Linked DNA regions of Homo sapiens. The protein of the gene in region 1 purifies or fractionates together with the protein of each later gene. This does not show direct contact. Each region holds a gene or a part of one and is shown in the gene's direction. Other genes may lie near its edges. The genes, in order: GIP and COL14A1.

The links.
Region 2: the proteins of GIP (region 1) and COL14A1 purify together in Homo sapiens (affinity purification with mass spectrometry; 2 studies listed by BioGRID and IntAct, with this or other methods). This does not show direct contact.

What each region holds. Positions count from the first base shown.
Region 1 is NC_000017.11:48,958,597-48,965,596, reverse strand, and holds part of GIP (gastric inhibitory polypeptide preproprotein), read left to right. Parts: intron 1-1,116; coding exon 1,117-1,287; intron 1,288-3,777; coding exon 3,778-3,870; intron 3,871-4,609; coding exon 4,610-4,711; intron 4,712-6,880; coding exon 6,881-6,890; 3' UTR 6,891-7,000. UniProt on the Homo sapiens protein: Potent stimulator of insulin secretion and relatively poor inhibitor of gastric acid secretion.
Region 2 is NC_000008.11:120,365,815-120,373,338, forward strand, and holds part of COL14A1 (collagen alpha-1(XIV) chain isoform 1 precursor), read left to right. Parts: intron 1-1,356; coding exon 1,357-1,434; intron 1,435-3,515; coding exon 3,516-3,671; intron 3,672-4,521; coding exon of another isoform or gene 4,522-4,553; exon of another isoform or gene 4,554-4,922; coding exon of another isoform or gene 4,923-5,020; exon of another isoform or gene 5,021-5,337; coding exon 5,338-5,417; 3' UTR 5,418-7,524. UniProt on the Homo sapiens protein: Plays an adhesive role by integrating collagen bundles. It is probably associated with the surface of interstitial collagen fibrils via COL1.

The sequences.
Region 1 (7,000 bases):
GTCTCCCTTTGTCACCTAGGCTGGAGTGCAGTGGCGCGATCTCCGATTACTGCAAGCAGCGCCTCCTGGGTTCACGCCATTCTCCTGCCTCAGCCTCCCAAGTAGCTGGGACTACAGGCGCCTGCCACCACGCCTGGCTAATTTTTTTGTATTTTTAGTAGAGACGGGGTTTCACCATGTTAGCCAGGATGGTCTCAATCTCCTGACTTTGTGATCCACCCACCTTGGCCTCCCAGAGTGCTGGGATTACAGGCGTGAGCCACCGCACCCAGCCTTTTTTTTTTTTTTTTTTATTGAGACGAAGTTTTGCTCTTGTTCCCCAGGCTGGAGTGCAATGGCACGATTTCAGCTCACTGCAACCTCCACCTCCCAGGTTCAAGTGATTCTCCTGCCTCAGCCTCCTGAGTAGCTGGGATTACAGGCATGTGCCACCACGCCTGGCTAATTTTTTTTTTTTTGAGACGGAGTCTCGCTCTGTCTCCCAGGCTGGAGTGCACTGGCGCAATCTCAGCTCACTGCAAGCTCCGCCTCCCGGGTTCACGCCATTCTCCTGCCTCAGCCTCCCGAGTAGCCGGGGCTACAGGCGCCCACCACCATGCCTGGCTAATTTTTTGTATTTTTAGTAGAGACGGGGTTTCACTGTGTTAGCCAGGATGGTCTCGATCTCCTGACCTTGTAATCCGCCCGCCTCAGCCTCCCAAAGTGCTGGGATTACAGGCGTAAGCCACCACGCCCTGCCAACGCCTGGCTAATTTTTGTATTATTAGTAGAGACGGGATTTCTCCATGTTGGTCAGGCTGGTCTCGATCCCGACCTCAGGTGATCCGCCTGCCTTGGCCTCCCAAAGTGTTGGGATTACAGGCATGAGCCACCGCCCCTGGCCCCGTGATCTCTTTTTGCCCAGAATCCAGAGCCACACACACTGAGGCTGCAGGAAGTGGGCCCTGGAGCTGAGGATAAAGCCTGGGGTGGGGTGGGGGAGTGGATCCACAGGGAGTCTCCATAAAAACGGACTGGTTTGTTTTCAAGTGTCTGCCTCCTGTTAGTGACAGTCATTTACCCTAGCATTGTGATTCTCCCCCCATCTCTGCCCCTTCTCCGCACCCTTGTTTCCAGCGCTCTCCCCTCCCTGCCTGTTGGATCTCATGCTAAGGTGAGCAGCCCTCAACCTCGAGGCCCCAGGTACGCGGAAGGGACTTTCATCAGTGACTACAGTATTGCCATGGACAAGATTCACCAACAAGACTTTGTGAACTGGCTGCTGGCCCAAAAGGGGAAGAAGAATGAGTGAGTCGCTGCTTACACTCCTCCTGTTCCCTGTGCCGGGCTCTGCCTTCCTACCTTCAGAGGAGGCCACCGGCTGTGGCCACACAGGCCACATGATGCACAACCCCAGGTGGCACCTTTCTTTTTCTTTTCTTTTTTTTTTTTTTTTTTGAGATGGAGTCTCACTCTTTCGCCCAGGCTGGAGTGCAGTGGCGCGATCTCGGCTCACTGCAAGCTCCGCCTCCCGGGTTCACGCCATTCTCCTGCCTCAGCCTCCTGAGTAGCTGGGACTACAGGCAACTGCCACCATGCCCGGCTAATTTTTTTTTTTTTTTGTATTTTCAGTAGATACGGGGTTTCACCGTGTTAGCTAGGATGGTCTCGATCTGACCTCGTGATCCACCTGCCTCGGCCTCCCAAGTGCTGGGATTACAGGCGTGAGCCACCATACCCCGCCTCTCTCTCTCTTTTTTTTTTTTTTTTTTTTTTGAGACAGAGTTTTGCTCTTGTTGCCCAGGCTGGAGTGCAATGGCGCAATCTTTGCTCACTACAACCTCCACCCTCCACCTCCTGGATTCAAGCGATTCTCCTGCCTCAGCCTCCCGAGTAGCTAGGATTACAGGCATGTGCCACCACGCCTGGCTAATTTTGTATTTTTTTGTTGTTCTTTTGAGACGAAGTCTAGCTCTGTTGCCCAGGCTGGAGTGCAGTGGCTCGATCTTGGCTCACTGCAACTTCCACCTCCTGGGTTCAAGCGATTCTTCTGCCTCAGCCTCCTGAGTAGCTGGGACTACAGGTACGCGCCACCATACCTGGCTAATTTTTTTTTTTTTTTTCAGTAGAGACAGGGTTTCACCATGTTGACCAGTCTGGTTCTCAAACTCCTGACCTCGTGATCCGCCCACCTCAGCCTCCCAAAGTGCTGGGATTACAGGCATAAGCCACTGCGCCTGGCCTAATTTTGTATTTTTAGTAGAGACGGGGTTCCATGTTGGTCAGGCAGGTCTCGAACTCCTGACCTCAGGTGATCCACCTGCCTTGGCCTCCCAAAGTGCTGGGATTACAGGTGTGAGCCACCACACCCAGCCTGGGTGGCACCTTTCACCAGGCAAGGATGGGGAGTCAGACATGGTAGCTCTGGCCAGGACCCTGACTTGGGCACCAGTCTAGGCTAGGGGTAGGGACCAGGGCTATTCCCTAATCCTTTACTTCTTTTTTTTTGAGACGGATTTTTTTTGCTCTGTCACCCAGGCTGGAGTGCAGTGGCACAATCTTGGCTCACTGCAAGCTCCGCCTCCCGGGTTCACGTCATTCTCCTGCCTCAGCCTCCTGAGTAGCTGGGACTACAGGTGCCCGCCACCATGCACGGATAATTTTTTTGCATTTTTTTAGTAGAGACGGGGCTTCACCGTGTTGGCCTGGATGGTCTCGATCTCCTGACCTCGTGATCTGCCCTCCTCGGCCTCCCAAAGTGCTGGGATTACAAGTGTGAGCCACTGTGTTGGCCCTAATCCTTTACTTCAAAGGGGAGGAGTCAGAAGATGTATGGGAGCTCAGAGAGGATCCCCAGGGGTCTGAGGATGAAGCAAGGGAGAGACGAGCTCCTTCTAATGACTGCTTGCTTGGCGGTGGCCACTTTAGACTTTGAAAACAGGATTGGCTAGGGCCAGGCCCAGTAGCTCACACCTGTAATCCCAGCACTTTGGGAGGCTGAGGCGGGCAAATCACGAGGTCAGGAGCTTGAGGCCCTCCTGGCCAACATGGTGAAATCCCGTCTCTACTAAAAATACAAAGATTAGCTGGGTGTGGTGGCACGTGCCTGTAATTCCAGCTACTCGGGAGGCTGAGGCATGAGAATTGCTTGAACCCTGGAGGCGGACGTTGCAGTGAGCTGAGATTGCACCACTGCACCCCAGCCTGGCAACAGAGCGAGACTCCGTCTCAAAGAAAAAGGAAAGAAAATAGGATTGGCTGTTCATGGTGGCTCACACCTGTAATCCCAGCACTTTGGGAGGCCCAGGTAGGTGGATTGTTTGAGCTCACGAGTTCATTCGAGAACAGCCTGGGCAACATGGCAAACAAAAAGTACAAAAATCAGCTGGGTGTGGTGATGCCTGCCTGTAGTTTCAGCTACTCGGGAGGCTGAGATGGGAAGATGGCTTCAGCCTGGGAGGCAGAGGTTGCAGTGAGCTGAGATGGTGCCCCTGCACTCCAGCCTGGGCAATACAGCCAGACCCTGTCTCTCACACACACACCAAAAAAAATGAAGAGAAGATTAACTGTCCTCGTCCTTCTCCCTGCTCTATGCCAAGTCTCTTTCCCCGCCCTCTCTGGTCAGCACGGTAGATTCTGAAAAGCTGTTCACTGGTGGAGGCAGCTGAAGACCACTGTTAGGTGGGGTTGAGTGGAAAAAGGTACCCTCTGCTTTTGGGGTTCAGATATTAAAAGATTCAAGTGTCCCTAGACTGGAGTCTCCGCAGCTTGCCCACTCTCTAATCTTTATCTTCCCAGCTGGAAACACAACATCACCCAGAGGGAGGCTCGGGCGCTGGAGCTGGCCAGTCAAGCTAATAGGAAGGAGGAGGAGGCAGTGGAGCCACAGAGGTGAGTCAGGGCGCAGAGGGAAGGGAGGGAGCCAAGCCTCCTGCCCCGCCCCCACCTCTTTGTTCCCTCTCCCTGACCCCAGAGCAGAGCAAGGACCTGAGATAAGCATCCTCTTCCTCTCAGAGTTCAAAGAGGGGTCTTCATTGAGCAAACTCCTGGAGGTCAGCCCAAGCTTAAGGAAGAAGCCTTGGAGAAACGGGAGGGGTGCTAGGAGGGGTTTCAGGGACAGGGTTTCTAATATTGATGACTGCATGCACAGCACAGTCACTGAGTCAGGAGAAGGGCAGGAAAGAAGAGACCTCAGGTCCTGGCCTCACCACCTCTCCCTGCCAAACCTCGGGAAGACTGTTTGTGAAAGAGCGGGGGATCTTCCCAGGCCCACTCCCCTGAAATCAGTTATCCCCTCTCTGAATGGCACAGGTCATTTCAAAGAGTGAATGTGCCCAAAGTACTCTCTGCATTCTGGAACACTGGCAGAGGTGGATGGGCAGAATATCTCATACCAGAATTCTGTTTGACTCTCCCTGTATGAAGAGTCCATATTCCCCAGGCAGGCAGCGCTGGGTGGGGCTGGCAGAAAGGAGGCTCCAGATCTCAGAGCTGAGCCAACGGAGAGATAGCTGTGTCGGCTCCCTCCCCCCATCCGCGGCTGCCCCTCAGTGGTGTCCCCAACCCTGTGTTTACCCTCTCTGGGCGAAGCTCAGGCTAAAATAGTTAGCCAGAGACTGTTCCCTTGCAGCTCCCCAGCCAAGAACCCCAGCGATGAAGATTTGCTGCGGGACTTGCTGATTCAAGAGCTGTTGGCCTGCTTGCTGGATCAGACAAACCTCTGCAGGCTCAGGTAGGGGAGTGTGGTGTTGCACAGCGGTTCTAACTTGAGCTTGGGCATCAGACATGGATTCAGATCTTTGCCCCTCCACATGCTGGCTGATTACATAGCCTTTCTGAACCTCAGTGTTTTCACTAAAATCAGAGGTATAGAATCATTTCACAGGATTGTTGTCAGCTTTAAGTAAGAGAATGCAAGTGGAAAAATACAAAGAAAAAAAACAAAAGAAAAAAAAGACAATTCAAGTGGAGACCTGAGGGCCATCTTTGAGGAGTAATAAGAGCTCAGCAAGGTTAGTAGCTCTGATTACTATTTGTTCTTCTTCCTCACTCTTCCAGGCGAGGTGATGCTCTCCCCTGCCTATCCCTACCTGCCTGTCTCTACCCACCCAGAGCCCATCCTATGCCCCGCCTGTCCCTACCCACCGAGCTGAGCCCATCCTGTGTCCCGCCTGTCCCTACACACAGAGCTGAGCCCATCCTGTGGCCTGCCTGTCCCTACACACAGAGCTGAGCCCATCCTGTGTCCCGCCTGTCCCTACCCACCGAGCTGAGCCCATCCTGTGTCCCGCCTGTCCCTACACACAGAGCTGAGCCCATCCTGTGTCCCGCCTGTCCCTACCCACCGAGCTGAGCCCATCCTGTGGCCTGCCTGTCCCTACACACAGAGCTGAGCCCATCCTATGTCCCGCCTGTCCCTACCCACCGAGCTGAGCCCATCCTGTGGCCTGCCTGTCCCTACCCACCGAGCTGAGCCCATCCTGTGTCCCGCCTGTCCCTACCCACCGAGCTGAGCCCATCCTGTGTCCCGCCTGTCCCTACACACAGAGCTGAGCCCATCCTGTGGCCCGCCTGTCCCTACCCACCGAGCTGAGCCCATCCTGTGGCCTGCCTGTCCCTACCCACCGAGCTGAGCCCATCCTGTGTCCCGCCTGTCCCTACCCACCGAGCTGAGCCCATCCTGTGGCCTGCCTGTCCCTACCCACCGAGCTGAGCCCATCCTGTGGCCTGCCTGTCCCTACACACAGAGCTGAGCCCATCCTGTGGCCTGCCTGTCCCTACCCACCGAGCTGAGCCCATCCTGTGTCCCGCCTGTCCCTACCCACCGAGCTGAGCCCATCCTGTGTCCTGCCTGTCCCTACACACAGAGCTGAGCCCATCCTGTTCTCAGCTTTCCCTCTGTACCCTTGGGCCATGGCACCTTCCTGGTGATGGGAAACTACATAGTTAGAGGCATGTTTCCTTCCTCTGTGGCCACTGCTGGCTTCAATGGTCTCTTGAATCCCCCTCATCAGCTAGAAAATTCTTCAGTCCATTCCTTATGTCCCAGAATCGAGGCACTAAATATTATGAAGACACCTGTCCACCTAAAGGGTGAGACAGGACCCTCATGATGCAGACACAGAGGCACGGAAACCAAAACACTTCAGACATTGATGCTGAGCAGCTAGGGAGGGATTGAGGGAGCAAATCTGGGACAGGAACCTCAGGAGGGGAAGAAGGGACAGGAGTGTGAGCAGATCCATGGAGAAGAGGGTGTAAGAAAATCTCCGTAAGAAGGTGGATATTGTGAATTATTTTGATTACTTATCATTAAAATGGTGATTTGATGAGGCAAAGGTGGGAGCATTGCTTGAGGCCAGGAGTTCAAGACTGCAGTGATCTATGATCACATCTGTAAACAGTCACTGCACTCCAGCTTGGGCACCACAGTGAGACTGTCTCTTAAAAAATAAGTAAAATGAGGCCGGGTATGGTGGCTCATGCCTGTAATCCCAGGACTTTGGGAGGCCGAGGAGGGTGGATCATGAGGTCAGGAGATCGAGACCATCCTGGCTAACACAGTGAAACCCTGTCTCTATTAAAAATACAAAAAATTAGCTGGGCGTGGAGGCGGGCGCCTGTAGTCCCAGCTACTCGGGAGGCTGAGGCAGGAGAATGGCGTGAACCCAGGAGGTGGAGCTTGCGGTGAGCCGAGATCGCGCCACTGCACTCCAGCCTGGGCGACAGAGCGAGACTCCGTCTCAAAAAAAAAAAAAAAAGTAAATTGATAAAAATTAAAATATTTAAAAAGGTGATTTGAAGGTAGGAGGGGTTCAACAATGGTTGGGTCCCAGGATAAATGTGCTTGGCCGACTCCAAGTCCATAACAACCTTCTTCTCCTTTCCCCACTCTCCCCAGGTCTCGGTGACTCTGACCACACCCAGCTCAGGACTGGATTCTGCCCTTCACTTAGCACCTGCCTCAGCCCCACTCCAGAATAGCCAAGAGAACCCAAACCAATAAAGTTTATGCTAAGTC
Region 2 (7,524 bases), on another chromosome or scaffold:
CCATCAAGGTGACATGCAATAGGATTGGGTGTTTGGGAATTCTAGCAATGAGTAGACCAACCTGGATGACTCCTAGTAAAGAAGAAGAGCTTTTTAAAAGAGATGCCAGGCTATGTCTTGACTGCAAGAGATCATTACGGGGAGCACAAAAGATACCAAAGCTGCAGGTTAGGAACAACCATTATATGTGCAGTGTAAAAACAAAAAACCAAAACCTGTTAGTTCCTCACCGGAGTCTTCTTTACCAGTGATTTCCAGAACAAATACTACATCAACACTTTTCTTTCTGGAAGTTATAAACTAAGATGTTAAAAGTGATTATTTTCAAGTGCTAGCATCTTGCTTGTTACATCTAATTTGTTGACAGTGAATATGCATTATATTTAAAGTAAACAAATAGTTATTTGCAATTTTAAAAAATTGCAAGGCCTTTCCATGCCTGCTACCTGTCAAATTGGCCATTTTTCACTTATTGATGTTTCCTTCTAGGCTTTGCCAATTCAACATAATTTCTCAGTAGGTATAATTAAACAGAGATGCTGTTCTGCATGCTGCTATTTCAAAGCATTGTTGTACACAAAAAAACAGACAGCAAAGATCTTCTATGATGTAAGCCAGGGTAACCCAGACCCCAGTCTAATGCAACCGTATCTTGGGCCTCAATATAGGCGCTCTCACCTTTCAAGTGATCTTGTGATAGGACCTGTTTAGATAATGAGGTGTCAGAGTATATGTTTCTTTGTTGTTTGCCTGTGAAAATGTATAGTTTGTTAATAGCACTGTAAATTATAAGAGGTCTGCTCCATGGAAAAGAAACATGAATAGATTTAGATTTTTATGGGGCTGAATCAGCCAAATCAAACACAGGCTTTTCTGAAGCTTCCAAGTTTTAATGGAAACTCACGCTCTTCAGAATGTTGCTGCCTAATTACAATTCATGCCTTTTGCAGACACATTACAGAGTGGACCAAAAGGAAAATGTTAGACGTGTTCACTTGTGATTTCTATTGTGTTACTTGTGGAGTGCCAGCTGCATAAGTCCAGTGGCCTGGTGCGTGCAAAGACAAGGACCAGTTCTTGGCAGGCTGTGTGACTTCAGTAGGAAGGAGAAAGAGAGACTGGCAGAATAGCAAATACAGACCACACACTCAAATACAGAACCAGACTTCAACATGTGATTCTACATATACTACCAATGTCAGAATGTAATTTAAAAGTCCCATGGTACTCATAACCCCAAACGAACCCACTTAATTGTCTTCATCAGAGAAGCACTTTCGAACTCCAGAAAAATGGAACTACCAAGATTTTCTTTTAAAAAGAACTTTAAACATTTTTAAAAATTATTTTAAACAGGTCTAACTGGTATCAAAGGAGAAAAAGGAAATCCAGGCGTTGGAACCCAAGGTCCAAGAGGCCCCCCTGGACCAGCAGGTAAATCTTCCTTCCTAACAAGAGACTGCAAATGTATATTTTTATATTCACTTGGCATTGCAAGTGAGGAAAATGGTCATCTTACATCCTAGTATGTAACTTAAATGGCTGTATTTCTTACTTGTTTTATTGGGAGGCTTCTTTGTTAATAAGGATCCTCCCAATATACAAGACCAAAAAGTTAGAGCATATTCTGGGATCTTATTGTTTGTGTGAGTTGCGATAGGACAGACTATGCTATAGTAACAAATACATCCCAAATGCTTAGTGGATTTACACAATAAAGCTTTATTTCACAATCACACAAAGTTTCATATGAATAAGGTAGCTCTCTTCCATCTCAGAACCCATGACCTCCATGGTGAATCATGTAGCCTCCAAGAGAAAGAAAAAGAAGGCACATCGGGCTGGGTGCGGTGGCTCACTCCTGTAAGCCCAGCGTTTTGGGAAGCTGAGGCAAGAGGATCACTTGAGGCCAAGAGTTTGAGACCAGCCTGGGCAATGTGACGAAACCCCATTTCTACCAAAAAAAAAAAAATACAAAAATTTAACCAGGCGTGGTGGCATGTGCTTGTAGTCCCAGCTACTTGAGAGGCTGAAACAGAGGATCACATGAGCTCTGGAGGTTGAGGCTACAGTGAACCGTGATGGTGCCACTGCCCTCCAGCCTGGGTGACAGAGGGAGACCCTGTCTCGAAAAAAAAAAAAGAAGGCACACCGGTCTCAACTTCCTAAACAGAATGAGATGTCACTTCCATTCACATTTTATTGTCTGGAACTAATCACCTAGCCCCAACTGAACTGCAAGGCAGACACAAAATTTAGAGAAATACAGGGCTATTTGGTGAGCACTAGTATTTCCTGCCATGGTAATCTTACTGAATGAGTTCTGTAAAAGTTTTGAGTTTTGTGTATTATATGCTTTTAGAATGGTCTCCAGATGATCAGGCTTGATATTAGAATTATTATAATTTGCAATCTTATTATAATATATATTTATAATGTCAGTCTTAGCCACATTAAGTAAAGTGCTTTACAGATTTTTCTTTCCAATCTAGTAAGGATTTTGGAAAATACTTTTTCTGAGAGAGGTTCCTAATGCAATTCATTTTGAGTGTAAATATTTCTGTTATTAGAGACAATGTGAGGAACTGATATAACATTACACATTACACAGAATGGGTGGTTGGTGAGTGCTGATTGAGGAGCTGAATATATGAGAGCCACCACGCTATTCAAATAGAAGGTGATACTTGTTCCTACTTTTCATTTCAGTTCTAGTTGAGAAATTCCATTATAGTTGAAGAATGCCTTTTCAACACTGTTGGAACCCGGACCTAAAAACAAGCATACAAGCCAAAAAAAAAAAAAAAAACATGCTGACAAATTTCTTCAATTCACAACAGTTTTAATCCTCCTATTTTTACTCAGTCTGAATTCTCAATTAATGTAAACTAGCTTAAAGAAATTTTGGATTAGTATATTGGGTCGAATGTCAAACTTGTCATTGGTCCCCTCCAGGACAATTTCACACTCATACAAATTTACTTTAATTATCTAGGGCCATAAACCAGTACTGAATTACATGGCTATTCTAACTGTTGATGAGGTTGAGCTTTAATTATCTGGGGCCATAAACTGGTACTGAATTGCATGGCTATTCTAACTAGATGATGAGGTTGAGCTCTGAGTGTGTTCATGTTTGTGTCTGTGTGTGTGCACGCCCATAGATTGGATTCATAAGGAACTGCATTGGGAAACAAAAGCTCCAAAAAGAAAATAAGGTTGATAATGGAAGGTTCCTTTCCCTTTAACATCCAAGAGGAAATAGAAAAGATGCATTTTGCTTGCCAGTTTCCTGAGCTGATTGAGAGCATTGACCTCCAGGAGGATAAGTGATTACACTATGACCCTCTGCCTAGGGAATCCAGTCTACAAAAAAGAACTCAATGAGTAGAAAGAGGTTGTCCTAATTGTCCTAAAAGTTGCTTCTTCTAAGAGTTAGTTTACTTCTTGGTTGTCTCAAAACTCACCCTGTTGTGGCAAAAGACCAACGGTTTTCATCTGTGGGTACTTCTTAGGACCTTCAGGGGAGAGTCGGCCTGGCAGCCCTGGGCCCCCTGGCTCTCCTGGACCAAGAGGCCCACCAGGTCATCTGGGGGTTCCTGGACCCCAAGGTCCTTCTGGCCAGCCTGGATATTGTGACCCCTCATCATGTTCTGCCTATGGTGTGAGAGGTAAGTGTCACAAAAAGCCCCGCTTGTGGGCTTTGATCAATGTTTTAGTATGCTTAGTACCAAAATGGGAAGATAGTGCTATGAAAAAAGTTAAATTGGTTATGAATGGGAAGCAGAGCTTGAATGCCTCACTTCCTTAAATTATCCCGAGACATTTTCTATAAAGTGCAAATTGCTATAGAGGCTACTCCCTTAAAAACCTTAAGAGCAAATTCAAAATAACAGCACATCTAAGTCTTCCTTGCTTCCCAGTGATGACCTACATAGACTTGGCCTCTGACTTTGTATTTAGCACATTTGGAGGACATGGTTGAACATTCTTTTGGAGTCTCCATTCTTATGTGACAGCTGTGATGTGGCCAAGACGTCCCATAAAATTTTACTCTTGGTTTGGGGAAATGTCAAACTTAGAACTTCTCCCGTAATTAAGAGGGCTCCTTAGATTATTTTCAATGAAATCATGCATACCACTTGCATTTAGGTGCATTTAAGCACCACATTTTAGGTGACCAAGAATAGTTGTGAGAGGAAACAAAAATCATGCTGTCCTTGTCTTATCACTAGCTACTGGACTAAAAGAATATGCTTCCTAAAACATCTGCAGTGTGCATGCTGGCGTGCTGTGCAATGGCCCCTTTTCTGACATAGTCACTCTTGGAAGCATCAAGGGAGAGGCTGAGGGACTGCTGTGGGGCCATGAACTTACTAGTTAATGGGTTTAAAATTTTCTGCTTCAGTAGAAATTTAACCTTAGTTATCACAGGAATTGGTCAACAAAGTTTTGCTGATGTGTTTTTCTCTGTTCATCTTTTCCCTCCCTGTTCTCTCAAATACTCCTATCCTTATTAAGATCTGATCCCCTACAATGATTACCAGCACTGAAGTGGAAATCCTCCACTCTGGTTCCATTGGCCCCAGACATTTAGCTGTGGATACAGAACTGTCCTGTCAACCACCACCACCACCAAGCCCCTGCCCCTAACAATGGACACTCTGCTTCCCTGCTTCTTCTGCATCCCTGCCTTCCCACTTTCAAACCTCTTGCCCACTCTGCTCCAAACATGATGGAGTGATAACATCGGAACTTAACCAAATCATATATGTCTATTTTAATAGACACTGACTGCTCCATGTCAGCCTGGATAGAGGTATATGATCGTGTGCCAAGAATTTATCCCAGACTCCCCTGTGTGACAGCTTCATAATAAAGTTACTTAACTGTGCCTCTTCCTCCTTCCTCTCCCCACACAGGATGGATGGGCATCTTTCTCCTTGACCACCCTACTCTCCCTTCCTCCCCTGATCACCTCCCCTCCCTGCTCTTCCCTGGTGATGGACTTCTAACATGAGATTTTTTAAAAAAATTTCTATTTCTTTTATAATTTTGCTGAGTTTTCAGGGTTTCTTCTGTAAATAAAACATAATATTTAAATGGTTGGTTATGATTCTAGTTTTCTAACAATTTCTGTAATGTATCTTTCCCTTCGTCTATTTACTAACTGTCTGAAACCTTATGGGGAAGGTACAAGGGGCGTGGTGGATTAAGACATCCACTGCTTTTTACCCAGCAGGATATCTCTGTGTCTCTAAGGACCCAGGTGAGGGGAGAATATCAATTTATGATTCCTGGGTGCAGCAAGTCCCCACCCCCACTTTTCCTCTTTAGCTCCCCATCCAGATCAGCCAGAGTTCACCCCTGTCCAAGATGAGCTGGAAGCCATGGAACTGTGGGGCCCTGGAGTCTGATAGCCTCAGGAGAAATTTGAAGACCAACTGCAAGAACTCTTAAGGAATCTTGTTTGAGAAAATGTTGTTATGTGGTTTGTATGCTACTTTTGGGGGGCAGGGCTCATTTCAGCAGCCTAAATCTCCTCCTTGGATAATGTTAATATTATTATTATTATTAACAAAAAATATATATTTTTAAAAAGTTCCCTTAATCTATGACATGGTAGCAATGATTTCCCTTTGGTGTCTTAATGGCATGTCAGATAATTTGTTTTTCCAGAGAAGAGAGCTCAAAGAGGAATTGGGAAAAATAAATTGAACTCTGGAATCTTCTCTCTCAAGTCCTAAAATGAACAAACAGATATGATTGTGTTTGAGGGAAATATGTCCCTAGCAGGAAAAGAATTCAAAGAGGTTCAAAGAATATGTCACTTACTCCTACTTGCTGTAGGAATAACCTTGCTGATAAGAAAAAAAGGGACAATATTGGAGAAACTACCTCTTGTTTAATTGATCTGTCCAACTCTGAGATCACTTGGTAACTGGTTTCATGTGTATCCAAAAATCAGCATTTGGATTTAAGCTTTCTGAATTTGGTAGTTTAAGAAACAGATTTAGTTTTTCAGTGGTTTTAACTCATGTGAAATAATGATTTTCCACCAGCTCTGATGCAAAGAGATATAATTTTAATGAACGATTTATCCAGCAGTGTGTTCCAGGGGTTGCCTCTCCTTATCTACGGGGATTACTTTGTACATGCAGATAAGTTTTCGCAAACCTATTTCCATTTTCTTTTGTAAGCAAATAAAACTTTAAAACAATGTATGTGGATTCTTTTTCCTGCATTTCTAAGTATCACCTTAAGCTTTTGTAGTCTTAACTGAGTGTCCACCAGAAAGACAACAGTTGTCTTCCTTTAGGTAAGCATTCAAACTTTCATTCATTCGTTTACTCACTCACTCATTCATTCATTCTGAGTGCAGTAGAAAACAGAAGAAGCAGTTAACTTGGGACTAAGAGATTAGCGACATTTTATTGTTCATTTATAATCTAGCAGGCAGCAAAGACCCTGCAAATGCATGACCTCTGCTAAATAAATGTTTATCAATAGTTGACTGAGGAGCCCACCTATCTTCTGATATTGAGGAAAGCCTAAAAACCCCTAGAAGGCAGAGCAGAAATGAGGTTGAATCTAATAGACTCTAACCCTTAAACCATACTTTGTCTTTTGCTCACAAAGGAAAAATCTAGGTATTTGAGAAAGATTTGAATTCTATTATGTGCTAGTTGAAATAGAAACAAAAGAGAACCATAAATTTAATACGTGCTCCTTCTCTGTAACATCTCCCTAGTAACAGCTAACTTTAGAAAGTAGGGATGGGATCATTTACAACTAGAAGCTGGATTCTTTCTGGATCAGGAAAAGGCTAACACGAAGGATGGTGTCTGTCTGATCACCAGGTTCTCTTTCTGTCCTTCTCATAATCTCCTGATCTTTGGAGATGAAAGATCTCCTTTCATCTTCATCTGAAGGATTCTTCAGATGATTCATCTTCAGACTTCATCTGAAGGATTCAAACAATCTACTTGTGTGCCTTTGGTGGGGTGGGGCAGGGGCGGGGGGCGGTTCTAAACAAATCAGTTTTTTTGGTGTCTTTGCAGGGAATGAAAGAAGATAATGAGCAGATAATCAGCAGCCATTTCCTTTCAGTTATGGTATATGATTCTGCCTGAGAAAGCAGGATTTATGGGAAGGAAAACTTGTCTAAGGCTCATCAAGATGGCCTGACCCAGAGTCACCTAAGAGAACTCTTCCAACTTAAATGACTAGGGTGTGTAATCAGTTGCTTCTTATTCTGTGTCTCAGATTTCCTAGTCCATGACATTTAATAGTGAGTATAGAGTAGGATATTCTATACATTTTAGTATTTGGCCCTTGGAAACAAAGTTAAATACCATGTCACTCAGAAGACTCTCAAAGTTTGTGTATAAATGGCGAAGTATACACTATGAGAGATTCTAATCCATTCACATCATTCTTGAGTTGTGCAAATACACTTGGCTTTGATTTCACTTGGTGATCTAAATTTGTTTATTTAAGCTGCAAGAAAGTTACATTAATTTG